Linked DNA regions of Homo sapiens: region 2 is linked to region 1. A link means that fine-mapping ties the variant in region 1 to the expression of a gene that starts in the linked region. Tissue or cell type: whole blood. Region 1 holds a variant in brackets; the other region holds the start of a gene. All regions are shown on one strand. Distances are from middle to middle.

Region 1 (8,261 bases):
CCAAGGTTTTGCCTAAGAGCACTATGCTGTCTGCAGAACAGAATTTTAATAAGAGCTTCCAAAAGTTATTTAACTGGAACCCTAAGATACTGAATGGTGGCTTCCACTCTCCCTGATCCTGTTCCCGTGGGAGACTCAACTATTGCTATTCCCATCCTGATTCAAAAAACCAGTTTGCTCTAGCTGCCCAGACTTCCCCACAGGCTGCATTCTTGCCCATGAGCTCATTGTTTTGGCTTCTTTGCCTGTATAAGTCTACTGCCAGTGCCAGAGGTCTCAGCCCGGGGCCCCCTAACTAGCTGGGGCTGCATTCCATTCAGAATTTCACCACCCCCACTTGGTGTTCTTCCCGCCCTCATGTGGTCACATGTGTATGTTTACTCAAGTTAGCCTGGGACAAGGTGTGCTGGGATAGAGAGCCAAAGAAGCAGAGAAGGAAAAGAATGTTTAACTGTTAGGTTTCATCCTGGATTAGATTTCAGTAAAAATGCTTTCAGTTCTGTGCCCTAAAAAATGTTAATTTTCTTGTCTGGTAGGAGGAGCTGGTTTTGAAAATTTTGCTATACATTTCATAGTCTACCCTACTGGGCTGGTTATGACTCTCAGGTATTCAGATTTGAAGGCGAGAATGCGGTTAATTCTCCCTGGGAAACACCGCATTCACATGCATTTTATTCCTGAAGCTCCTATGCCCAGATCTATCAGGCCTGCCTTTCTCAGCTCACAACGCCATCCTTTAGGTTGCCTGGAGCAGTTCCCACCGTCTCCGGCCCTTGGTGGAAATGGGGGGAGGGGAGACAGCTGGCCTGCTGCAAGGGAGCAGCTGTTCGGTTTCACTGCTTTGTTACTGAACTTTCCTGAGGGGAGGATACCTTGTTTATTTCCTTTTGCATGAGAGCCCAAATCTAAGGAAAGTGGGGCACACACCTCAGGTGAAGGGCTATGGGAAGAGCATTTCTCTTACTTTGCAGAGTTTTGGATTAATACTAGATGCTTAAGCGGTATACTCCTTTCCTCCACCCCCCTCTTCTTCATCTGTAAAAACAAAACCAAAAAACAAAACTGCAGGCTGCGGCTGTGGGAGGTGACTTTTTTTCATTTCTCAGAAATCCCTCATGAGGCAAAGCAGAGAAACAGAAAGAGGGAAACAACTTTGTGTCAAAATGAGGTTGTGTGTGTGTGTTTTGAAATGAGGTGGCTTGTTGTCAGCTTTAAGGAACAACAGCTCTGCAGAGGAGCCTGGTGATGGCGGGGAGGAGTGCTGGGCTACCTGCTTCCTTGCCCCTTGCCCCACTTCAAAGCTGGGTAGTTGGGGTCAGGTATGAAACAGGATGGAAGTCGCTGTATCTTCCTTTCCCCATCATGAACCATGAAAGATGTATCAGTGCTACTGTATGAAAGAAAAATTTGACCAGTCGCGGTGGCTCATGCCTGTAATCCCAGCACTTTGAGAGGCCAAGGCGGGTGGATCACCTGAGGTCAGGAGTTTGAGACCAGCCTGACCAACATGGCAAAACTCTCTCTACTAAAAATGGGGGTGGTGGTGTGCACCTGTGGTCCCAGCTACTTAGGAGGCTGAGGCATGAGAATTGCTTGAACCTGGGATGCAGAGGTTGCAGTGATCCTAGATCGTGCCACTGCACTCCAGCCTGGGCCAGTGAGACTATGTCTCAAAAAAAAACTTAGTAAATGCTTGTGGCTTACCATTATACATAAGCCTATGTTTGCAAGACAGTGTACCTTAAACAAAGACCAGGAATACTGTCATTTCCTGGACCCAGGAAAATTGGCCAGGCGCAGTTGCACGCGCTTGTAGTCCCAGATATTCTGGAGGCTAAGGCAGAAGAATCACTTGAGCCCTGGAGTTCAGGGCTATAGTGCGCTATGTTGATCTGGTGTTCATGCTAAGTTCCGCATCAATATGGTGACTTCTTGGGAGTGGGGGACCACCAGGTTGCCTAAGGAGGGGTGAACCTGCCTACGTTGGAAATAGAGCTGGTCAAAACTCCTGTGCTCATCAGTAGTAGAATTGCACCTGTGAATAGCCACCGCCCTCCAGCATGGGCAACATAGCAAGACCCTGCCTCTTAAGATAAAAATTGGAAAACACTGGTAGGAAAAAAAGGCTGTTTGGTCTAAATAAGTCTGGATTGGGTATAAATGACACAAAACTATCATGAATTTGAAAGCATTTCTAATTTCTTGAAAGTCTGAAAAAGTTTAAACAGAATTTTAGCTGAAAAGTCCTGAAAGACATTTGAAAAAAAACAGCAAGAACACTTAAAACTATTCAAGGTTTGGGCTGGGCACAGTGGCTCATGCCTGTAATCCCAGCACTTTGGGAGGCCAAGGCAGGCAGATCACTTGAGGCCAGGAGCTCAAGACCAGCCTGGCCAACATGGCGAAACCCCTTCTCTATTAAAAATACAAAAATTAGCCAGGCATGATGGTGCGTGCCTGTAGTCCCAGCTACTCAGGAGGCTGAGGCAGGAGAATCACTTGAAGCCAGGAGGTTGCAGTGATCCGAAATTGCACCACTGCACTCCAGCCTGGGTGACCAAGCGAGACTCTGTCTCAAAACAAAACAAAACAAAACAAAACAAAAAACTATTCAAGGTTTGGATCATTGAGGCCAAAATTATTTTGATAACAAGATGCCCCGTGTGAATGAAACTGAGTAATAGAAGGCTCATGGCCAGTAGTCGTAGCTACTAGGGAGACTGAGGCAGGAGGATCACTTGAGCCTAGGAAGTTGAGGCTGCAGTGAGCTGTGATTGTGCCACTGCATTTCAGCCTGATGACACAGCAAGACCCTGTCTCAAAAAAAAAAAAAAAAAAAAGAGAAAAGAAGGAAGCCAGGCACCCCATAGGCCCAGCTATTCAAGAAGCTGAGGCGGGAGGATTGCTTGAGCTTAGGAGTTCAAGTCTAGCCTAGGCAACATAGTGAGACCCTGTCTCTTAAAAATATACATATAATTTTTAAAAATTCTTTTATTTTTACATAAATGGAAACAGGGTCTCACTGTGTTGGCCAGGATGGTCTTCAACTCCTGGACTTAGGTGATCTCCCTGCCTTGGCCTCTCTTAAAGTGCTGGGATTACAGGCGTGAGCCACCGTGTCTAACCAAAAATAAATTTTTAAAAGTGTTTTTGGCCAGGCGTGGTGCCTGTAATGCCAACACTTCGGGAGGCCGAGGCGAGTGGATCACTTGAGGTCAGGAGTTCGAGACCACCCTGACCAACATGGTGAAACCCTGTCTCTATTAAAAATACAACATTAGCCAGGCGTGGTGACACATGCCTGTAGTCCCAGCTACTTGGGAGGCTGAGTGAGTAGAATTGCTTGAACCCGGGAGGCGGAGGTTGCAGTGAGCCGAGATCACACCATTGCACCCCAGCCTGGGCAACAAGAGCAAAACTCCATCTAAAAAAAAAAAAAAAAGTGAAGAAACTAGATCTGAAGCCTTAATTTTCTCCCCTATAAACAGGACTTAACGATACTGTCAGCTATCTTATTACCGCAAAGATTTAAAGAGAGACTATTGATACACGTGCTTTGTGCTTTTACCTTAAAGCACTACACAAATAGAAGGAGTTTCAGGACTGTCCCTTAAGGGTTTACTCTATTAACCATTTTCAAGTCCTTAAATTCCCTAGGAGAAGCAATTAAGAACCAGGCATCAGTAGAGTATGTTGAATTAAAAGGTTCTACAGCTGTATTTTGAGGCCTGGAAGAGACACAAACAGGACTTTCTATGGCTAGGCAGAGCAGAAGTCACCAGTTAGGAAAAATCCCCAGGGTCAGAAACCACCTCCCTGCCAAATTTGCCCTGCTGCCTGTTTTTGTATGGCCCACAAGCTAAGAATCATTTTGGTATTTTTAAATGGTTGAAAAAAATGGGCCGGGCA[C/G]AGTGGCTCATGCCTGTAATTCCAGCACTTTGGGAGGCTGAGGTGGGAGAACTGCTTGAGCCTAGTAGTTCAGGACCAGCCTGGGCAACACAGTGAGACCTTGTCTCTACAAAAAAAAATTTTTTAATTAGCTGGGTGTGGTGACCTGCACCTGTGGTCCCAGCTACTTGGGAGGCTGAGGCAGGAGGATGGCTAGAGCCCTGGAGGTCAAAACTGCAGTGAGCTATGATTGCGCCCCACCCCCGCACTCTACCCTGGGCAACAAAGCAAGATCCTGTCTCAAAAAAAAAAAAAGAAAAATTTAAAACTTTAGTGTCACAAGTCTGATTGGAACACAGCTACGCCCATTTGTTTACTTATTGTCTATGGCTGCTTTGTGCTGCTACAGTAGAGAAGCTGCAACAGAGATGATAGGTCCTGCAAAGCCTAACATATTTATCATCTACTCCTGTAGAGAAAAAGTTTGCCCAACCCTCTACTAAAGCTAAAGAGGAGTCTCATTTTGTGATGAAAGAGGCAGGCAACCAATAGTCAACAGTAAGGAGGAGAGGAATGTAGCGATGGGAGAGAGGAAGGGTGACCTTGTTCCAGGGGAGATGATCTCTGCCTGTCTCATCAAGGGGAGGGCCTTTTAGCCTAGGGATCCCAGGGGTACAGTCTGCTCCTTTTTTTATAATCCCACCCTCTTTCCCCCAGTTTCTTTTCCTCTTCACTCAAAGTTCAGTGGAGCTATCTCAAGAGATTCAGGTAAGGCTCAGAAGAGTACAGCACACAAACATGCCGACCCAACCTAGCCTTCCTCCCCCAGCACAGGGCTCTTCCCAGGCCTCTCAGCACAGCTCTCCAGTGCTCACAGGAGAAATGCTCTGCTCTGGCCAGCTTCCAGCCAACTCTGCACCTCCCCTTCAGCTGGCAGAGCTGATGGCTCCCTGGCATCTGACTGCCATATCTCGTGCATACCTTGTTTTGGACTAATCTTATACATTCCTCCCTCAAATCCTTTCTTCCTTCAGACTCAGCCCTGAAACACCCTCTTGAGTTTTCCCAGTCTCCTAGGTCAGGAAGCCCAAAAGTCAGATTCAGGGTTTATGCTGGCTACTTTGAGGTTAACCCAAACTTTTTCTGTCTCTTGTTGACAGACTTAGACTTAGGTACTTTCCTGAGGCTTTCTACTTCCTTTAGACGGTGTCTCTGCCCTTTAAAGCTGACAGCTCTTCATCACCTACCTGTGGCAAACCACCTCTACTTGAAACACACACCTCCCCAAACCATAATTTCTACGGTAGCATGATTCTCCATGGTTCAAAGAGAGGAGAGGGCTTCCTGGGTCAGTTTACTCTGGTGGGGAAGATGCTAACATGAAGTCTCTATTTGTAAACCTGGGGACAAGGGGAGAGCAAGGAATGAGAGAGGGTCTGGCTGGAGAGAATCTGGAGGGAGGCTCTCCTGGCATCTTGTTCTCTCTACACCCCACCACCCTCCATGTCCATCTAGAGTCTCCCACCAGAGCTCTTCTCTTACAGGTTTCCTGGGAGAAGGTGGCTTAAGGCTGAGACACTTATGCCCTGGGCCAGCCACTGGATTCCTGTGCTCTGCTTCACTCCTAGTTACCAGAAAGGTGGAATCTGGATGAGTGGAGGTGAGGAGAAGGTTCAAACTCTCCACCAGACCCATGCTGCAGCTGTGAGCACCTGCTTACAGGGAGGCCTGGGGGTTGGGGAAGTCCAGGAGCTAAATTTAGTCCAAAAGCTGCAACTTAAATTGGGTGGGTATTTACCCTGGGGAAGCTGGGAGGGGGAGGGGAGAGGAATCCTGACCCAGCTGAACTTGTGAGAGCACAGATCACCCCTAGTGTCACTGATACTCAAACCACAACCCCCTCCCCCAGCACACCCTCAGAAAGGAGGCATCCTCAACAATTTGCAGGCCTTTTGCATGCTTGATCTCTCTTGTGCATATCAAGTTTGTTCCTATCACCACCCCACCCTCATCTCAATTCTCAGGGGTCCAGTTCCTCTGAGTCCTTCCCTAAATTCCCACTAGTGCACCAAACCCAGGGGCCCTCCCCACATTCCTCTGCCCTCAGGCTGCAGCTTCTGCTCTCCCAAGTCCCCCCAGAGGGTTTCAGAGGTCAGCGAACAGGTGTCTGGCCACACTACTCCCCTCTACGGGGCCAAGAAAAGGGATTGCTTGGGGTCGGGTTCCCTTTCCTGAGAACTTCCGCATTGACCCCATAATGACCTCAGTGACCAGAGGAAGGAATCCTTAGGGGCTGCACTGAGTCCTAGCTCTAAAATAAGAGGGGAAAGGGAGCAGACCCCCAGAGGAGAGCCCACCTCCTGAGAGGTCAGAGGCTGGAGGCCGAGAGGGAGCTCATGGGCGGGCAGAAAGAGAAAGGGGGTGCTGAAGCCGGGGAGCCCTGCGAGGGGCTGCGACCGCACCTCCACCTGCGATTGGTTCTCAGGCTCAGGGCAAACGCCAAACCTGCCCAGCAACAGCCCTGAGCAGAGGGAGGGGAGCTTCGGGGAAGTCAGCTGAGCCGGCACCGCCCAGCTCTGGGCTTCCAGGAATCGCTGGGAGGGCCCCAGCCTCCACCCCACCCCTCCCTGGGTCTCAGGACTCTGCCTTCGGCCTTCTATACCTACTGGGCGGGCTCGGATCCCGTTTCCCTGGCCCCCCACATCTGTGATTCCCTGCTGAGGCCTCTTTAGGCTCAGCAGAGACGTTGGAACTGGGCTTTCCTTGTGGCCCCCTTTCCTCGCTCCCTGCCCTGGGCTGACGTCAGTTTTATCTTCCTTCTCCATTCCCTTTTGCCTCCTTCCCCACTCGCTCTCCTCTTAAGATGTCCAAATTCTTCCTTCTCAGCCACTTTCAACCCAGAGAAAGCCCGAGTCCCAAAGCAACAGGAAGATGTGCGGGGGACCGCGAGTGTGGGGACATCCTGCCGCCTCGGGCAACTCTGTCGTCCCCCACAGGGTTCAGGTGCTCAGAAAACAGCAGCCACTGAGTTCACTGTTTCCGCAGGCCCCGTATTCCCGGCCGTGCTCAGCTGGGCTTGTGGAGTCGCGAGCGGGGGCGCTCCTGCGGCACCGCCCCTCCTGGGCAGCCCGGCTTCCAGGAGAGACTCGGCCTCAGTCTCCGAATGGCAGGGGTCTGGGAGAGGATGTGATGGCAAAGGCCTGCCCCTCTCAGGCCGCCTCTAGCAAGTTCTCTACCTTGAGAGAAGCGAGTAGGAGGAGGAAGGAGGCCAGGCTGAGCCATCTCTGAGGAATGTGGCTTTGGCAGGACATCCAGTGCTGCCCCGCTCCTCCCTCAGCCCCGCCCAGGGCCCTGGAGCCGGGCCGGGCTCCTCCTCCTCCAGGGGAAGGGCTCGGGGCAGGAATCCCTTCCCTTTCCCCACCCCAGAAGAAGCCCCAGAGCGTAGGGATATGCGTACGGCAGAAAGGGAGACAGAAGGCAGGGCTAGAGAAAGGGAACAGGAAAAAAGAGCTTCGACAAGCCAACTGCCCTTCGCTCAGGCCCCAGCGGAAAGGCGCAGATACCCGGAGACTTCCCAGAGAGACTCGACCCACCAAAAAGCGCACCGCGGCCGCGCAGCCCTTCCTTCAGCTCTGGAACCCAGCGCCCCACACCTCAAATGGGAGAACTGGTGACCTCTAGTGGCCCATGACCAGCCTGCAGGGCCTGGGGCTGGCGGGGATTCTCTGACCCAAACTCTCCTGGGCTCTAATGCTGTTCCCCTGCCCACCCTACCTTCTGCCTTCACACTGCTGAGGGGTCCATAGCCGACAAGGAAGAGCTCATTTCTCATTTGTCATGACCATCTTTAATAAAAAATAAATTAGTTCTGGGTGGGAACCATTTCAGGAGGCAGGGAGTGGGGCTAGGGGCTGGGCGGGGTGGTGGGGGAGCGGATGCTCACATTTCTCTTTTTCACCCTCTGCCCAGCTGGGCCTTGCTCTGGAGAGGCAGTCTCTTTCCTCCTGCCTTCCTGAGTAAGGCAGGATTGGCAGTGGCTGACCCCAGCCCTAGCTAATTAGGGAGGCAGGGGCAGAGATACTAGGCAAATGAGAAGGGGTCAGAGACACAGGGCGGCTTAGAAGATGTGAGGTCTGAACATGAGAAATGAGGCTTAGGGCACAAAACTGGAGTTGGTGGGGAGACCACACTCTAAGTAGCTCAGATTAGCAAGGAACTGCAGACTTGCTTTCCTTTCCACCTAGGAAAGTCTCAAGGAAACAGGTCTTGTCCTTCTCAGTCTGTGTAACCTCTTTTTGAAAAGTGATACACGTTTGAGCACACACATATCCATGCAGTCCCAAAAGCACACCTGAGGCATATGTGCACACACC
Region 2 (8,000 bases), 240 kb before region 1:
GGTATTTTCCACTTAGTATTGCAGCCAAAGAATATTTAAATAAACGTCTTTGCTGCGCTTGCATCCATGCCCAGCCAATATACAACTGTAAAGCAAATATAGAAAGTCGGCTGTTGATACGATTGTCTGTTATCGAACACATTCAGTGATAAAGCTGGGTTACTGCTGCTTTTGGTGCTCTCACCTTATCTGGAAGATCTGCAAACATTACCTAAATAGGCTGGCAAGATAAACACTTTCTGGAACCCGAGACTTGGCCATAAAGATAATGCTGCATTTTTCTGTCAGAATCACATATGATGTGTGTTCTGTAGAGGTTATTTCTGCATGGAAACTCAACTTCTTGGATTAGCCGTCCCAGTGAAAATCCTCATTGTTGGAGTGTAAACCAAATACGAAGCCCTCTTGCAAAGTAGCCTCTTTCATCCCATACTCAAAATACCCAGTTTAGCAAGCAACTGAGATTTAAGTCTCTCTGGCCCTAAGAGGTTTTTCCTCTTTGCTCCCTCCAATCTTGAGATTGGGTTTTGCTTTAGAGTGCAAGTATCATAATTCCGTATGATAGATGGGGCCTGGACACCCATCTCAACAGGGTCACTTGGTAATTAACAATAGCCATATAAATGCGGATACAGGTTACTACCCTCACCCTTTACCTTCCTCAGGTAACAGTCGTAGATACCAGCTTTTTTTTTTTTTTTTTTAAATTGGCTTTGGCCAGTAGCTAAAGTGCAAGACTGAATTAATGAGAAGATATATTAAATGTAGTCATAGGGGACTGAGGAGCAAGGGTGGCCTTGAAGAGGCCAAAGGAATGTCCATTTGCTGAGTTTCCCTTCCTTATGTCTCCAGTCTGGTGCCAGGTAGTGGAGTAAAAAAGGAGACAGTTTATTTTTTTATTCTATGTGCACACTTACAGTATACATATATATTTATATCACAATTTACGAAACCAAAAAGTTGAGTTTCCAATGGAACCCTTGTTTTTTAATAATCGACTTTTTAAATGTGATCAGGACTATAATATTGTACAGTTATTATAGGGCTTTTGGGGAAGGGGAGGATAGCGAGAAGATGCTCTGGGGGTTTTGTTTTTGCTTTTCCTTCAGGGTTTTATTTTTGACTGTTTTGTTTTCTTGTTGGCCATTTCTGTATTGCTGGCATCTGTGCTAAGCTTTACAGTGGCAAAAATAATGACATGTAGCAAAGATTTTCAAACAAAATATTTTTTCCTTTTGTAAAATTTCTTGTGTTGTGTGATCTTGATTGCGGCTTTATCATTCCTTTCCAGTTCATAAACAACAGGCACCCACAACCAGAGGAATCTATAGTTTAAGCTCCAGACATACAAACATAAGGCACATTGTGTCTTTAATTTCAGGAATCAGAAATCATAGGGTTCTGATCACATTGCACGCCTCCCCCCTCACTTGTCCTCCTGATCCTGACACATTCTGAGTAACATCAGCAGGAATGCTCTGACCATGAGGTGGGGGTTTTGGGGTGGGCGTTGCCTGGGTTCTTGGGAGAGAGGGGAAGAGTCGGGACTTGAAAACCACTAGGGCACATCTGGATGCCTTCCCCCAGTATGTCCTTTTCTGGATTAAAATGAGTGAAATTTAAACTGTTCAAGTCTGGACCTGGTTTCCCTCTAGGAGACTATGTTGGTTCATTAGCAACTTTTTTTTTTTTTTTTTTTTTTGTGTGTGTGTGTGTGTGTGTGTGTGAGAGATGGAGTCTCGCTCTGTTACCCAGGCTGGAGTGCAGTGGCACGATCTTGGCTCACTGCAACCTCTGCCCCTTGGGTTCAAGCAATTCTCCTGCCTCAGCTTCCCAAGTAGCTGGCACTACAGGTGTGTGCCACCATGCCCAGCTAATTTTTGTGTTTTTTTTTTTTAGTAGAGATGGGGTTTCACTATATGTTGGCCAGGCTAGTCTCGAACTCCTGACCTTAGGTGATCCACATGCTTTGGCCTCCCAAAGGCCTGGGATTACAGGCGTGAACCACTGCGCCTAGCCTGTTAGCAGCTCTTAAAATCCAGAGGCATAAGCCTGTATTTTTGAGGGTTTATGCATGGAATCCAGCTAGAAACTGAGTCTATTACAGATCCCATTTATTATCCTTTCTATTCCAAGAAGCCTTTTTTTCTCCTTCCCCACATCTGTTTATGGAAGAAAATGAAGTTTGGGGTGTGGTTTGAGGAATCAGCTAGATTCTTATGATCTGTCACATGCTTGGATGTTGGGGAAGCATTTGGAGAAGCTCATGTGACTTGTCCTAGATTGGGGATTTTAATTGAGACAGATGATGTTTATCGGGCATCCCACCACCTGAGAGTTTTAGCAACAGAGTCACATGTGAGTCCATCAGAACTTACGGCATTGATTCAAGTGCTGTCATAAATAACCAGGACTGCTGTTTTTGGTTACTTTTAAAGACAGTTTCATCTGGACTTTCTGGGCATATCCTCCTTCAGCAAAACCACATTAGGCTGGGAAAACTATTCTGCCTGGAAGTAATGACAACTTGCAACCAACAAGCTTATAAAAATACAAAGAATTCTGGAGCCTATGGCTTCCATTACATTATTCTTTTATAGCCTTTTATGTTCATTACCGCATCCCAGAGGTGAGAGTCAGACACAAATATGAAAATAGGTTTCAATGTTGGAGAGGTAAATCCTAACAGGAAAGGGGTAGGAAAAGATATAATCCCCCAATATTAAAATAAAGATATTGAAGAAGAAGGATGGGAGAGACTAGGGCTGTGTCCTTCCTTTTACTCACCAAAAGAGAAAGTAAGCTCCTATTTGAGTCAATAGATATTGAGGTCTTGTTATTTGCCACCAAAGACAGTCTTGTGAGACTAAATAGCTAGTAATTCCCTACCCTGGCACACATGCTGCATACACACAGAAACACTGCAAATCCACTGCCTCCTTCCCTCCTCCCTACCCTTCCTTCTCTCAGCATTTCTATCCCCGCCTCCTCCTCTTACCCAAATTTTCCAGCCGATCACTGGAGCTGACTTCCGCAATCCCGATGGAATAAATCTAGCACCCCTGATGGTGTGCCCACACTTTGCTGCCGAAACGAAGCCAGACAACAGATTTCCATCAGCAGGTAACGTTTGCAACTTCCTAGATCTTTTAGCTTTTCATTCCTGTCAATTCTCTGAGTATTAGGGATGTAGTGACTTGAGGATCACAATAAACTTTTAGCCTCTGCAGATGAAAACAGAGATGCACTTCTTAGGTCATTCCCTGGCTAAATAAAATCTGCCTGGAAATCTGTAGAATTCCTTGTATGATTTATATATATACATACATGATTGTTAGTAAAAGCAAAGTATATAGGGAATCATTTCCCCATCCTTCAAGAGTGGCCTTTCTGCAGTGTTTTCTACTTTGGCCAACAAGGATCAAAACGGTTAACTCCTTAGTGAGGAGGAGGAGAGTGGTATGGGGAGGTAGTAGCTCAGTGCTTCCTGTTCACTGAGACATCTCAAAGCCCTTAACACTCTAGTTTTTAAATGTCCTACTGGACATTTTGCCAGTTTGCAAAATTACATGTAAATGGACTATAAGCAATTGTGTAAGCCATATGTCATGCTGCAGGCTGCAAATTGTTCTTAAAATGGAGGATTTGTAATTAAGAAAGCCAATGCAAGAAATGAGTGAAGCTAACTAGAGTAAACTTATGAAAAGCTGTGAATTTCATCATCATAGAACATTGCTTTTCAGTCTGAACATTCTTCTAACAAACCTTGGATCTGAGGCTTCTTGTCCTTTGCGGCAGCCACAGTGGGTTTTTGTTGTTAGGGGAAAAATAAAAAACCTTGCCCGCAGCATCTGGTTAAGATTAGGGCAGTTTCCTGCCTAAGGAGGGAAGGGAGAGAAAAAGGAAGAAGAAATGCATAAGGAGAATGAGGAGATATACAATGTCTCAGAAAACAGGAAACATTGTCCTATTTTCCCTTGTCCTCTTCTGACAAGATCTGGGAAAGTACCAGAATTTAGGCACGAAAGAGAAGAACGCCTCGAAGAAATGATCAGGAGGCAAAACTTAGACGGAAATCTCTCCTTTGTGTATTCTGAACCCCACTACCACCTTGCTATTTGTCTGTCTCCAAGCCTGCTAGGGACCCTGGAGGAAACGCACTGAGCCCATTCTGATTGTCCAGTTTCTATCCCCCATTTCTGGTTGTGTACGTGTGTGTGTGTGTGTGTGTGTGTGTGTGTGTGTGTGTGTGTGTGAGAGAGAGAGAGACAGAGAGAGAAACAGAGAGAGTGTGTGTTGCCTAAATCTCCCGAGAGAGAGAGAGAGAGAGAAAGAGAGAAATGGCTAAATCCCCCTAGATCAAAGTCCTTGGAACCAGATGTACCAGCATCCTATCTAAACACAGGCCCCTCCTGACTATCATTGTTTTATCACCCTTTTTCCGTCTACCTTTCTCTTCCTCATAAAGCCTAGTTTTCCTCTGTTTCCCTGCCAAATGGAAGAGTTTTCCCTAACTACATTCTTCTGCAGGATGTGGGGGCTCAAGGTTCTGCTGCTACCTGTGGTGAGCTTTGCTCTGTACCCTGAGGAGATACTGGACACCCACTGGGAGCTATGGAAGAAGACCCACAGGAAGCAATATAACAACAAGGTGCCTGGGGTCCTGGAGGGGGCATGGCAGGAAGGCTGAGACCTGAGCTCTCTCATCTTAGCTTCCAGACTCCCTTCTTCAATCCAAATGCTTTATTCCAAGCAAATCAGTCCCTCTTCCCTAACTCATGTTAACATACGGTTTTCATTCCTATGCTTCAAATCATCCTCTGTCAAACTGTATCCTTCCTTTGCTTTATAAGTGTGTTACATTTCTCTTTTGGGAAGAGTTCTAAGATTAATGCTGTTAATCTATAAGCAATTTTTCTGTCTCTCCAGAGCTTTGTGTTGTATTTGTTTACATATTATCTCTTCTTGCAGGCTCTTAATTCCATGGTTAGTTCCCCAACTAAACTGTAAACTTTTATGATTGTGAGTTTCCTTTATTCTCCTAAAACCCTTCACAATATTACATATGTAACTGTAGACAGTCTATACAAGTACTGACTATGCTTTGTTTAGGTGGATGAAATCTCTCGGCGTTTAATTTGGGAAAAAAACCTGAAGTATATTTCCATCCATAACCTTGAGGCTTCTCTTGGTGTCCATACATATGAACTGGCTATGAACCACCTGGGGGACATGGCAAGTATAGCTTCAGCTCCTGTCCCACCTGCACCATTTGCTTTAGTTCCCTGCTGATGCCTGGCCTCTTTCTTCTTTGTCTTAGACCAGTGAAGAGGTGGTTCAGAAGATGACTGGACTCAAAGTACCCCTGTCTCATTCCCGCAGTAATGACACCCTTTATATCCCAGAATGGGAAGGTAGAGCCCCAGACTCTGTCGACTATCGAAAGAAAGGATATGTTACTCCTGTCAAAAATCAGGTACTCTCCTTTCTTCTGGGTGTGCATATGTAATCTGGCATGACCTTTTCCTTTTTCTGCTGCTTTGTTCTTGAGGTGAAAGGGCACCAGGAAAAGAGGGCAAGGAATTAAGGTACATCTCCCCATTCCCATTCTGTTATTTAACCTCATTTGTTTCTGTACATTTGGGTTGTTTCTGGTTTTTCTTTTTCTTTTCCTTTTTTTTTTTTTTTTTTTTTTTTTGAGATAGAGTCTCACTCTGTCGCCCAGGATGGAGTGCAGTGGTGCAATCTTGGCTCACTGCAACCTACACCTCCCGGGTTCAAGCGATTCTCCTGCCTCAGCCTCCTGAGTAGCTGAGATTACAGGCACGCGCCACTACGCCTGGCTAATTTTTCTATTTTTATAGAGATGCGTTTTCACCATGTTGGCCAGGCTGGTCTTGAACTGACCTCAGGTGATCCACCTGCCTCAGCCTCCCAAAGTGCTGGGATTAGAGTCATGAGCCATCGCGGCCTGGTTTTTCTTTATTACAAATAGTGTTGCAATAAGCACCCTTGTGCATATGTTTTTGTGCACATGTACAAATATTTATGCAAAATAAGTCCTAAAATTGGAATTGTTAGGTCACAAATAATCCTTTCCCCCCCCCCAAATTTTTTTTTTTTTTTTGAGACAGCGTCTCTGTCACCCAGGCTGGAGTCCAGTGGCGCAATCATGGCTCACTGCAGCCTCAACGTCTCAGGCTCAAGTGATTCTCCAACCTCAGCCTCCCTAGTAGCTGGGATTAGAAGCACATGCCACCACACCCAGCTAATTTTAAAAAATTTTTTGTAGAGACAGAGTTTTGCCATGCTACCCAGGCTGGTCTCAAATTCCTGGGCTCAAGCAATCTGCCCGCTTCGGCCTCCCAAAGTGCTAGGATTACAGACATGAGCCACCATGCCCAGCCCAAAAAAGTTTTTGCAATCTTACATTCTTACTAGCATGAGAATGTCAGTTTTTTCACAACCCAAACAACACAGGATTGTATCAGCAAGATAAACAATTGATTTAACGTTCATTTAACAAACACTTTTTGACCCCCAGAACCTACCAGATGCAGTGTTAGGCAGCAGAGACTCAAGATGACTAAGACACAACCTGTGTCCTCAGGAAATCTCAATCTAAAAAAATAGAACAGGAAAGAAAGAAAAATCTACAATCTAGCTGCACAAACAATAATAGCTAATACTTTTTGAGATTTTATTGTTTGTCAGGAACTTCTTAACTCTTTACATGAGTTAAATATTTAATCCTTATAACAATATTTTATGCATAGAGAAACTGAGACACAGGCAAATTTAGTAACTTACCCGGGGTCACATAGCTACTGGGTGGCAAAGTCAGGGTTAGCACCCAGGACAAATGCCTCCACAGCTGGTACTGTGCTCTGCTTTACTGTAGCTAATAGTAAAAATGGTAGCAAAAATCAATAGCAGTAGAACAGTGCAACAGATATTAAGCGGAAGAGGAAGACTCACAACAATGACAACATTTGTGCTGAAATTTTTAGAACACATGGAATTTCTTCAGGCAGGTAGAGAGAAGATATAGAAAATGTAAACAGCAAAGATTGATAGTTTCTCTGTATGCCTTTCAGGGTCAGTGTGGTTCCTGTTGGGCTTTTAGCTCTGTGGGTGCCCTGGAGGGCCAACTCAAGAAGAAAACTGGCAAACTCTTAAATCTGAGTCCCCAGAACCTAGTGGATTGTGTGTCTGAGAATGATGGCTGTGGAGGGGGCTACATGACCAATGCCTTCCAATATGTGCAGAAGAACCGGGGTATTGACTCTGAAGATGCCTACCCATATGTGGGACAGGTGAGATTGCTCCACACAATTATACAGCTCTGTTGGCTCCTCCTTCCCCAGCATGATGTTTTGTACTGGAAACAATTCCAGAAATACTGTTTTCTGTTATCCTATCCTGCTTTCTTGATGGAATAATTTCCCACAGAAGGCCAAGAAGATTTCCACAATCTGGGGGAATTTAGGGAGCTTAAGCTACTATAGCTCCTATTTGCATCTCTGCCATGGAGAGAAAACAGAGGCTAGGCTACCTACCCCATAGACTTCCGAGCTGGGTTCTATAACCCTCTGCTCAATTCCTCACTCCCACAACAAACCCACAAACCCACCATGCTATTTTCACAAATTGTGTGGCTTTATTTTATATGATCTCAGTGTGAGTTTTCAGAACATTTCAGCAAATTATGTAAGTTTACATGCTAACATCTATAAAATGAGAGAAAAAACAAGTTGCTTCATATAAGAGATAAGGGATTAACTCAGTTCCTCCTGCATGATCCTCTAGTCATAGGAAGGAAATCATATCTGAAAGGGAGGCAACCTGAGGGGTTTTTTATACACATAGGGCTGGGTCTGATAGACAATATAATGTAGGGCCTTCACAACAGAAACCTCTGAAACAGGGACAGCAAGTTTGAGAATAAAAATGATGGCTACTGTGTTCTAAGCCGTGTCCTTAGTGCATTTTTTCTTTTT

The links. PIP is the estimated chance that this variant, and not a neighbour inherited with it, causes the effect.
Region 2: it holds the start of CTSK, and the variant in region 1 is fine-mapped to the expression of CTSK in whole blood (INTERVAL, PIP 0.96).

What each region holds. Positions count from the first base shown.
Region 1 is chr1:150,560,389-150,568,649 of GRCh38, reverse strand. ADAMTSL4 (ADAMTS like 4) reads right to left here. Exons shown (of 19, transcript NM_019032.6): 19 at 7,717-8,261. It overlaps ADAMTSL4-AS1 (ADAMTSL4 antisense RNA 1), which reads left to right. Exons shown (of 4, transcript NR_104133.1): 3 at 5,433-5,548; 4 at 7,428-7,755. It also overlaps the pseudogene RN7SL473P. Among named protein-coding and RNA genes, the nearest start is that of ADAMTSL4-AS2, 6.8 kb to the right of the region's middle. RefSeq lists enhancers at 130-841, 943-1,332, 842-1,552, 5,204-5,253, 5,524-5,803 and 4 more. The variant C/G (reference allele first, on the strand shown) is at 3,910.
Region 2 is chr1:150,803,337-150,811,336 of GRCh38, reverse strand. It overlaps CTSK (cathepsin K), which reads left to right and starts at 3,077. Exons shown (of 8, transcript NM_000396.4): 1 at 3,077-3,123; 2 at 4,531-4,651; 3 at 5,113-5,235; 4 at 5,321-5,476; 5 at 7,098-7,316. The coding sequence starts at 4,532. It overlaps ARNT (aryl hydrocarbon receptor nuclear translocator), which reads left to right. Exons shown (of 22, transcript NM_001668.4): 22 at 1-1,624.